2 separate regions of the Homo sapiens genome follow, and region 1 is linked to region 2. A link means that fine-mapping ties the variant in region 2 to the plasma level of a protein whose gene starts in the linked region. Region 2 holds a variant in brackets. A gene starts in the other region. All regions are shown on their reverse strands.

Region 1 (5,381 bases), not on the chromosome of region 2:
TCATGGACATTTAACTTAGCCTTTCGAAGGTGTTCAGCCAACATTTTCACTCTATTTCACAATGCATTGCAATTTTGAGCACTAGTCATCATTTGTACTACTAATCATTTACTTGGCCTTCTGAAGTGTTAACAACTTGAAACATGTTTAAGAGAACAGTTTCTAGACACCTTGATGGGTCTAATCTCATGCCTTCAAAAATAAGCACAAATGAACCCCTTACCCACCTCACAGAAAAGCACACTTTGAGAAGGAAGGGAATTAAGTGGAGTGTTCGCTAAAGGTTTTCTCACTTCCCACTCACCCAAGTCACTGTCCCTCTGGTACCACTTGATGTCCCTTCACCAGTTCTGAGAACCAGACAAGAGGGGGAGAAGCCAGGGAAACTCAAGTCAGGACAGAAAAGGCCTTCAACAGCTCTGAAACCATCTTGCCCTGCCTCTGTAGTGGATGCTCTTAGGATATTTAGATCTTATTTACTGTTAACTTCTTCTTCCTTCAGACTCCAAAGTATGCAATATTTCTCTCTTACTTTGGTACTTTCACTCCAAGCAAAGGGCCTTTTTAAAATATGAGATAACAGGAAAGTGAAAGAAACCATGGGTTATATAACTAACAAATGGGATTTGGGGTTAAAGAGTGATTTTAGCAATACAAAATCTAAGTATATTCACCCTTCTTTAATATTTCCAGATGGCATTATTATTATTATTCCATCAGCTTCTCATCACCTAGTACTTAAACGCTAAAGTCTAATGCCTCCTGTCCCATTACTTCCTTGTCCCCTTATTTGTGTTAAAATGCAGTTATCTGGGGAAGGGTGGTGTTGGGGAAGGGGATACAAAAGCTAAGATACAAAGTAGATAGGAATGGTTAATGTCTAAATTTGTCTCTCAGAATGGGGGTCATGTAGCATAGTGGGAAAGAGCTTAGTGTCTCTTCTGCATAGAATCAAACAGACTGGAGCTCTAATTCTAGCTCATCTGCTTGTCACCTGTAGAACCTAGAGCAAAACCTTTTTCGGCTTCAGTTATCACATCTGTAAAATGAGGATAACAATTCCTACTTAAAGTCATTGTGAAGATTAGGTTTAAAAATGAGACATACACCATTTATGATCACTCTGGCCATATAGGATGTGCCCACATTATGGTTCTTTTTGTCACAGTTTACCTAGGGGCTATCCAACAGATATACAATAAAGCCACTAGAAAATCTGGGGAGCAGCTTTACTTCTGAAGCAGCTTTGCTCATATAAACCCACATCTCACAGGCCATATTTTTGCTTTATCCCCTACTCACCTCTGACTGAATCATCGACAATATAGCCAGGTATTTGTGGTTCGTTATCATACTCTTCTGAGTAGTCATAGTCGGCTCCCGAGGACGGTTCACTACTAGAAGGCATTTCACTCACAGGGGAAATCTCACTCCCTGAAGACATCTCACTTCTTGAGGTAACCTCAAATCCATCAGCACTGTGGTCCCCAGAAAATGGTTCACGCTTCCCAGAGTAGGTGTCATTGAGGTCCAATCCAGCAGCATAATGGCCTGCAGGGGAGGGAATAAAGGAAGAAAAGAAAAGGTAAAGTAGGGTGCCTTTCGAGTCAGCTGTGTTAGGTAGAAAAGTTTATCTTTTGACATCAAAGCAGTTATTGCACATGTGCTATTGTTTGTGATTGAGTCATTTCTATGAAAGAAACTTTACATTTTTGCCAGCAAGCAAATTCAGCTGTCCCAATTACAGAAGTGCTTTTCTGAAGTTTTTCTTTTCCACAGATAATCCACATTAATTTCCACATCAAAAAAATCCCGCCAAATTGGCAAATTAATCTAATACAATTACTTGATGGGTAATGTCTAAAAATTCCCATCACTTCACATTCCAAATGCATTTCTTTTTTTGCTAGAATGCCATCCTGGCCTATTTCGGTAGGTTTTAGATACAAATATCAGATTTTCTTCAGATGTGTTCATATTTTTAAAAGATATTTTTAAAAGATGTGTTCATATTTTTAAAAGATGTGTTCATATTTTTAAAAGATATTTTTAAAAGATAATCTTTTAAAATAATATAAACAGTGGTTAATTATATCGATTATTATTGTCATTTTTCATTATCATTATTATTATTACTACATAGACAATAAACTGAGTACTAAGTAAGATTTGGGGCCCAGAGTTAAGCCACTGCTTTATCTTGCTTTTTCTTAGGTCTCAATAAAACAGCATCAGAGTGGTGCTTTTAACCTCTCGCCGGGATACTCTAAGTCCCTCTAGGAAGGTAAAGAAGAAATCACTAGACAGAGATGGAGAATTAGGCAGGAGGCAGCAAACACTGCTGGGTCCAATATCTGCGGAAATCACTTCACCTCTCTAGATCTTGGTCTTTTTAATCTTTTAATCTGTGAAACGAAGGGTTAGGTTCAAATGATCTCTCCCGTCTTCTCAGCTGAACTAAAGAAAAAGTACAGCGATTCTCTGGGACACCTTGTCCTGGACGTTTGAGACATCTGCCCTTCTCTTTTCCTCCTAGGGAGGGAGCTACAGTGATCACCTCCTGCGGCGCAGGGTCGGGGGAACTAAAGGGCGATTTTTAGAGAAGCAAGAGCCAAACTCAAGAGGCAAAACCTGCCATGGGAGGAGAGCCCAGCAGTTCAGCGCCGGTGAATCCTCACCTGAGCCGAGTATCAAGAGCGACAGCACCACCGGCGCCGGCGGTAGCAGCGGGGCTCTCATTGGTCCTTCGCAGCGGCGGCGTCTCGGTCTCTGGGGCAACTCGGTCTCTGGGACACGAGCTGCCGCCAAAACGAGCGGGTGTTGGAAGAGCGAGTGGAGACCGGGAGTGTGCGCCGCTCTCGAAGGCTTGGGGAGCTCGGGGCGGCGGGCGCGGCGCCTCGGGCTGTCCCGGGACCTCTGGGGCGCTGGCACCCAGGTGTGCGAACGTCTGTAGGGCGGCGCGCACCTGCCGCTTTATAGGCTCAGCCGGGAGGGGGCCGCAGCCCATGACGTCAAGGCCCGGCCGTGGGTGGAGGCAGGCGGCGCCCCAGAAGGTGCTACCCGAAAACCACGCGCGGAGGACACACGCCCCGCCTCCCTCGTGCGTAAGGATTCGCTGAGAGGAAGTGGAACTTAAACCTCTAGCTGCAAGCCGTTTTTGAGGGCGAGCAGGACTGGAGTTCCGGAGCTAGTACCTGACAGAAGTCCAGATGTTTCAAACTCTGACAACCTCTTTGTATACTTAACATCTACAACAGACAGGGATTAAATAGAAGAGTTCCGTATTTAGATGTAAAAGTACTTTAAGACCAAGAGTGACTTTGCCTGATGTTTCCAACAAGGATAAAGGACGAGAGAACTCAATGAGGAATTGCTTCATGTAGGATGGGCTTCTATCTCAATCAAGAGCCCCTTCCCACCCATTTCTGTGAAGTGGCCAGAATTTCAAATCCCCTCACTCCCTATTTCTTTATGTGGCCCAGGGGCCTCATCAACATTAATATTTATTGATGATTTATTATTGCCAAATTATGCACTTAAAATTTTACCTACACCATCTCACAGCCGATAATGTTCAAAGCCAGGTGGATATGAATTCTTCATCTGACTCTGAAATCTGCTGTTTTCCTCTCTGATGAATTTAGGTTTAAACTGATCCTTGAAAAGAGGGTTTCTGGGAAGAACAATATTTAGCCTAAAGGATAATTTCTACTGGTGGCATACTGGCATTTAGGTGAAGAGTAGTGCTCTAGACTGTGCCTCTCAAATCCCAAGATAAAAAGGTCAGCGTTGAGGGCCCACTTACAACCTAGTAGGATATTTAATCATGACAAGTAGATAAAATGAAGCGGAGACAGGAAGCTACTTAATTTGACTAACTTGGATGTACTGTCAACTAAAGAACTGGATTTTTCTTGACTTGAGGAAGAGAAAAAGCATTGTTCATTTTCCTTCACCTGGAGATATGATTCTTTCCTGATTGTTTCAGTAACACAGCCCTTTTAAGAATGTAGGTCAGGCCAGGCGCAGTGGCTCATGCCTGTAATCCCAGCACTTTGGGAAGCCGAGGCGGGTGGATCACCTGAGGTCAGGAGTTCGAGAGCAGCCTGGCCAAGATGGCAAAACCCCATCTTTACTAAAAATACAAAGGAAATTAGCTGGGCGTGATGGCGCGCGCCTGTAGTCCCAGCTACTCGGGTGGGCTGAGGCAGGAGACTCCCTTGAACCCGGGAGGCAGACGTTGCAGTGAGCCAAGGTCATGCCACTGTACTCCATCATGGGTGATAGAGCAAGACTCCGACTCAAAATAATAATAATAATAATAATAATAATAATAATAATAATAATAACGTGAGTCACAGTGCATCTGTCCTAATTCTGGAAATTTTTTTTTAAAAATCACTTATTTTTAATGGTATATCACAGTGCGTAGTCCAAATAATATCATGCATTTAGTAGAATGAAATAATCATGAATCATGCCTTCTATTCCACATTTGTTGAGAGTGTATTTTGTGTGAGCCACCTGCTTTATATTTTATGAAGGGGAGCAGTATAGGTTCACCAGGAGCTCAGTGGTGTGGGCCAGATACATAGATAAGTAATTCTAATAGATCACATGATGAGAAGGGTTCAGAGTGCCATGGAAAAAAAGGACATGGTTTAATTTTGCCTCTGTTTAATGGAAAGCTCTGTGGAAAGATGAAGAGGCCCCTCAAAGGCCTTCCCAGCAAATCTTTTACATGGAATAAAGACCTGATGTGAGGGTATGACCAAGTATGGGAAATAAGGCTAGAAAAGTGTCATGCCCATTCCAAAGTGAAGTAGGGGCCTGCACTGTTATCTGTTCTGGTGGATGAGGCAATTGTGATTCAGAGAGATTGAGAGACTTGCCCAAAGATTTCAAAAGATTCTTTTGGAGACTTTGTTTGGAGCTCACGCAGTTGGTCTACACTGTTGCACCTTTATGCTCCCATAGGCTTCATTTCTGTTCTAGGCCTGTTCTTCTCTTTTCTTCTTTTTTTTTTTGATTGACAAGTAACTTCATATTTGTAGTATATGACATGATGTTTTGATATATGTATACAATGAGGTTAAATCAAGCTATTTAACATATGCAATACTTTCCATTTTCTTACTCTTCTTATTGAGATGAAAACACATTGTGCAGATCAGTCATCAGAAATGTTTCACTTTTGGGAAAGTGGACTGTTTATATTGGAAATTGCTTAGTCTTTTTCCAGTTGGAAATTTATAGGGTGAACATTTACATGATCTAGGCACATAACCTAGATCATGGGGACAGCATAGCTTAGTGCTTTGGATGAGCTTTAGATTCAAACCAATGTGGGTTTTCATATACAAATTCCAGCACATACTAAG
Region 2 (5,352 bases):
AGACTTCAATAATGCTTTTTCATGGATTGGTATTTTGTTCATTCCAAGAGTATTTCCATGCAATTGAAGTGCCATAGTCCATACACATGGACCAGGCACTGCCTCTGGCCAGGCTGGGTGAAGGGACTTTTTGGCAATGCTGAGACTCCTCTGGGTCCTTGGCTTTTAAGATGAGCACATGGATTGTGTGAAATACTCTCTGAACGAGCTTGAAAGGGGTTATAAAGGAATAGGATTCAGACATAGAAAGCATCATTGTGATGAGTGATGTCATCATGCAGCCTCAGACTGTAGGGTGCATTTAATCCTCCCTCCCACAGAGGTCATGTCTAGTTCCAGAGAGAGGAAACCAGAAGCCACATGTGCCAGCTCACTAGAATACCGTAAGATATAAAGAATCATTTGCTATGGAGCGCATATCCATAGGGCGCCACAAGAGTAAGGGCGGGTGAACAGGAGGAGAAGAAAAAGATGGAAAAGAGCAGATGTAAGAAGGAATGGCCATGACTGGTTTCCAGGTGGAGACATGGTGGAAAGCCCCGTGACTAAGATCCCTGAGATTGCAGTGTGGAGTGGGGAAGTTCTGCTGGGTGTCCTAGCAGCTCACTGAAGAGATGGGAGTGGAAGGGGACCCAGTCTTTTTGAAGTTGCCTTCTTCCTCGATCATGTGACACTGGTGGCAGGAGAGAGAGCTATGGCTGTCAACTCGGGGGCGGAGGAGCATGCCAAAATGAAGGAAGGGCAGTGGTGAGGAAGGGACTTTGTAAATGTTACCAGAGATGGCAGAGGGGCCTGGAAGTTTGGTTCATGTTTGGAAACATCCAAAATGGCAAACAGGTGCTCGGTGTATAATTCCATGATTCCTGGCTAGACGCCATCGAGAGTAACACCACTCTTTCCTGGTGAGTTTGAATAAGACTTTTCAACCTTGCTTTTCTCAGGGCTTTGCTCTGGCAAACTGGCCAGAGCTGATGTTGAAGGAAGCCCTTTTGCCTTTGCTGGGCAGTGTGTCTGGGAAAGAAAGCAAGGAGAAACACTCCCCTATGCTGGAGGTTGTCATCGAACAGAAAGGCCACTCACACACAGGCTTGTGATGGGACCAATGGGGTAAGTGGACAGAAAAAAAGAGGAGCTAGAGGCACAGAAGGACCCAGCAAAACCAGTGGAACCAAGGAATTCAGAGGCAGGCCATGCATCGAGCAACGGCGGAGCAGGGAGCAGCCCCAGCACTGTGTGTCCAACTTTCCCTCCACTGAGGACAAAGTTGGCACGTGGAGCCACGTGGAACCAGCTGGGCAGTCTCTGCAGAAACCCTGGCTGAGGGTAGGCTGGCCCAGAGCCATAGAAACTTGATCAGGACAGAGGACAGTCAGAAATGCAGGAAAGCATCTTCACCCACAGCAGTGTGGTCATTCTTGACGAGGTCCATGTGACACAGAGCTGTGAACACTTACCCATTCGTTGGACAGCCTTCAAGACCTGGCCCAGTGCATCTGTAGGAAGTGAAAGAGAAATATACATTTTTCTCATTCTACTTCTTTGGCATATATTTTGGAGATTTTTAATTAAATCATAAAGCAATATATGCTAAACTACTCTTAAATAATTAAAATCACTATGTGTCTGGATGTTGGATTGGTGGTTAATTATTTATTATGCATTTATTCATTTGTTCATTCACTCAGCAAATATTTTTGAGTTTCTACTCTGTGACAGGCGTTGTTCTAGCATTGAACAAAGCAGCCAGTTTGTTATTGAGATGTTTTCACATCTGGCTTTTGACACAGATAATTGTCCCACAGCTGGCTCTAGAATTTCAAACAGAGGGGCAGAAGGAACCAAGGCTAGAAGCATGGACTGGGGCCATGCTAATTACGGAGAAGGCTGGCAGCATGGAGTCCCTGCAGGTTTCTGACAAATTCTGTGCTTTGAACAATCATCTGGCAGCGAGGAGGAAGAGGTCAGTCCTGGGGGTGATGGTTAGCTACTAGTTGGGGTGAGAGGCACTGGCAAAGGGAGTGGAAGGAAGGAAATGGGTAGGATACTCTTGGGAACCTGGCGGCCCACGTGCAGGGGTGGCAGAAAGGAAAAGCGGGGGGAACAGACACGTGAAGGCATGAGGCTCAGTGGCAGGAGGAGGCCGTGATGATCACAGATGCAGAAGGCCAGGCATGGAGGTGGCTGCATCCACCCCAACCCAGCTGAAACTCTGACGGCAGAAGAGAAGGGATCCATCCTAAGCATGACTCCTGAGCAGCTGGGCTCCCGCTCTGGTGGGACACGCTGCCATCATTACTTTGATTACAGGATGATAGTTTAAAAAGGCAGAATAACATGGCTTTGAGACTCTCATTTCCTGGCCTGGAGAAAGATGGACAAGTACATTTCAATATGTGAGAGGCCTGGGGAGCCCTGGTGTAACACTATAATCTGATCCTAACAGTTTCTATCTCTGCTCTCCAGGTCTCTGTTCTCTACACTGCTCTTCTTAATTTGGGGGTCTGGGTGCTCCCTCTTTTCCATGGTGTCATGTACTGCAGTCTTACCCCTGTGGTGCTTTTGAGCTTAGTTCATAAACCAAACACACAGGCTTCGTAGGGGTGGAATATACAGGAGACCTCGTTACTGCCCACCCCACTACCTCCTACAGACACCAAACAGTCTGAGACAGAAAGCAGTCACTCAGGAACAGACCTAATAGCAGTCTCTCCCTGCCTGCTGAATGCAATACAATGGGAACACCCGGCAGAGGGAGGGCAGATTGAAACTGCAAATTTTCTACAAGATGCAGTCTTATGCAGGCTCTGAAAATGCTTTTGGGCAACCATAGGGATTGCTAACAAGAAGCTGTGACAGACTTGTAGGGAAAGGTAGACCAGTTGACCCTTGAAGAGAAGCTGGACAAGGACAGTGGCAGGACGGGGCTGCAGGAGAGAAGGATGTGAGAGCGTCAGAAGGCGAGGGGCTCCTGCTGACGCTGATGAGGCCCTCGGTAACTCTGCAGAAATGACTATTGAGTATGAACTCAAGCAGCTATAGCATGTTATTTAATTCTGTCAGAAAAATTATTCTCTGGC[T/C]CCCACTTGATTCTTTTTTTTTTGGTAAGGAATTTATACATATTTGCAATTATAGCAGTAACTAAACTTTGTTACATATAATTAAAATAGGCAAATTTTCATATTATTTGGTTTATTAGGATAAAGATTTCAAAGCAACTTTCTCCTCACCGTGTACTATGAAAACACAGTTCCATTTAAAAATAGATATTCCTGCTGGGCGCAGTGGCTCACGCCTGTAATCTCAGCACTTTGGGAGGCCAAGGTGTGTGGATCACTTGTCAGGAGATCAAGACAAGCCTGGCCAACATGGTGAAACCCTGTCTGTACTAAAAATACAAAAATTAGCCAGGCGTGGTGGCAGGTGTCTGTAATCCCAGCTACTCGGGAGGCTGAAGCAGGAGAATTGCTTGAACCTGGGAGGTGGAGGTTGCAGTGAGCCAAGATCACGGCACTGCACTCCAGCCAGGGTGACAGAACAAGACTCCGTCTCGACAAAAAAAAAAAAGAAATAGCTATTCCTCCAGGGTTCCTCCCCCTCGTCTGGGTGGCTGCACCTGCCCGGTTGGAAGGTAGGGCTTTTGGAATCAGCAGCTGCTTATGCTGTAGTCTGGGCTCTGATGCTGCTGTTCACAAGTTGTTAAAGAAACCCCTGTAAGTGTTTCTTTAACAATAGAAATGGAGAAGGCAATACATCCCATCTGAGAAATGAGAGAGACAATATATTCAGGAATGTTGTGCACGTCATAAATACTCAGTGAAAGAAATTAAAAAAATTTTCCCTCTCATCAACACTTGGCCGTATTTTAAAAATTAAACCCATTTCTATCGTGTAATTCCTATATAATTAATGGCTTTGGGAGAAGACACAGGTGGCAATAACAAGATTATATCAAACTATATACTCATCTAAAAAGGCTCAGAATCAGGAATGTAATCACACATACTAAAGAAAATATTTATAAAATTCCATATGTCAAATGAATAGTGTCAGGACTTTATTTGAAGCAAAGGGAGAAATTGAAATTGTAGAAAGGAAATGCAGTTTTAGTGGGAGACTAAAGTCAGACAGTGAAGATTTATTAGGACCTGGGAAAAAATAGAAAGACATTAGAAAAATGACCACTAACATTTTTAATTTAAATCTTGACTAAATCCCCTCTTTCTATATTTGGCAAACTATTTCTTATACAAAGTAAGTGTATTGAAAATGCCAAAACCCAATCACTTTCTGGACCTCCCCTAAGCCCAGCAACATATGCTCACTGACACAGAGATACTGATATAGAGATATTGATGCAGAGATACTGATGCACATCTATTCCAGAAGAAAGAAAAGGGGGAAGATAAAACATTTATTCTATACAGATAATATAATTCTGTTTCAGAGGCTTAGCTCCAAAATTGCTTATAGAAATAGATTACGTGAAACACTAGCAAAGCATCTTTTATACCATGCTTCATCGAGCTCACAAAGTGGCCAACAGAGCTGGCATGTTGGTATACCCAAAGGCGAAAATATGAAGAATCTTACATTGTTCCCAGGGAAATATTTGTTAAAATTCAAAATCAATTCCAGATTTTAAAAAACAGTTAAAAACTAGGTATAGGTGAGTACTTCCTTAACTAGATAATTAGTATCTCAGACTAATAGCAAATGTTGTTTTTCACGCTGAGACATTAGAGCTATTCCCATTACCTTTAGATGCCAAGCTCTGATGTCCACTGTCATTATGTCTGATATTATTCTGGAAACTTGGCCCTTATAATATGATCTGATACTTTTGGAAAAGATATTAAGATATCACTGTTGGAGATTATATGATTGTTTTCCTAGAAAGTTGACAAATCATCATCATGTCTCAATCACCGTCACTGCCACTGTTGTTACTCCCACGTCCTCACCACCATCATCGCCACCACCGTGACTTCCACCTCCTCACCACCAACACCATCATCGCCACTACCATTGTGACTCTCACCTCCTCACCACCATCACCACCATCAACACCACCACCACTGTGACTCCCACCTCCTCACCACCATCACCACCATCAACACCACCACCACTGTGACTCCCACCTCCTCACCACCATCACCACCACCACCATTGTGACTCCCACCTCGTCACCACCAGTAACACCATCATCACCACCAACGTTGTGACTCCCACCTCCTCATCACCATCACCACCCTCATCACCACCACCACTGTGACTCCCACCTCCTCACCACCATCACCACCATCAACACCACCACCATTGTGACTCCCACCTCCTCACCACCATCACCACCAT

Alleles and levels. Alleles are on the strand shown, and positions count from the first base shown. The strength of an association depends on the size of the effect and on how common the allele is.
For the plasma level of the protein whose gene starts at base 2,949 in region 1, allele C in region 2 goes with a higher level than allele T (weak association).

Evidence for each region. A credible set is the group of variants that fine-mapping cannot tell apart. PIP is the chance, under the fine-mapping model, that this variant and not a neighbour inherited with it causes the effect. The UK Biobank Pharma Proteomics Project read protein levels with antibody pairs (Olink). The fine-mapping took linkage between variants from a reference panel, not from the people measured, so its PIPs are less certain.
Region 1: it holds the start of AREG, and the variant in region 2 is the best candidate, but not a certain one, in a credible set for the plasma level of the AREG protein (UK Biobank, PIP 0.53).

Annotation. Positions count from the first base shown.
Region 1 is chr4:74,442,704-74,448,084 of GRCh38, reverse strand. AREG (amphiregulin) reads right to left here and starts at 2,949. Exons shown (of 6, transcript NM_001657.4): 1 at 2,679-2,949; 2 at 1,303-1,551. The coding sequence starts at 2,739. RefSeq lists a silencer at 1,482-1,682.
Region 2 is chr7:55,167,316-55,172,667 of GRCh38, reverse strand. It overlaps EGFR (epidermal growth factor receptor), which reads right to left. Exons shown (of 28, transcript NM_005228.5): 16 at 1,455-1,493. Among named protein-coding and RNA genes, the nearest start is that of EGFR-AS1, 19 kb to the left of the region's middle. The variant T/C (reference allele first, on the strand shown) is at 3,078.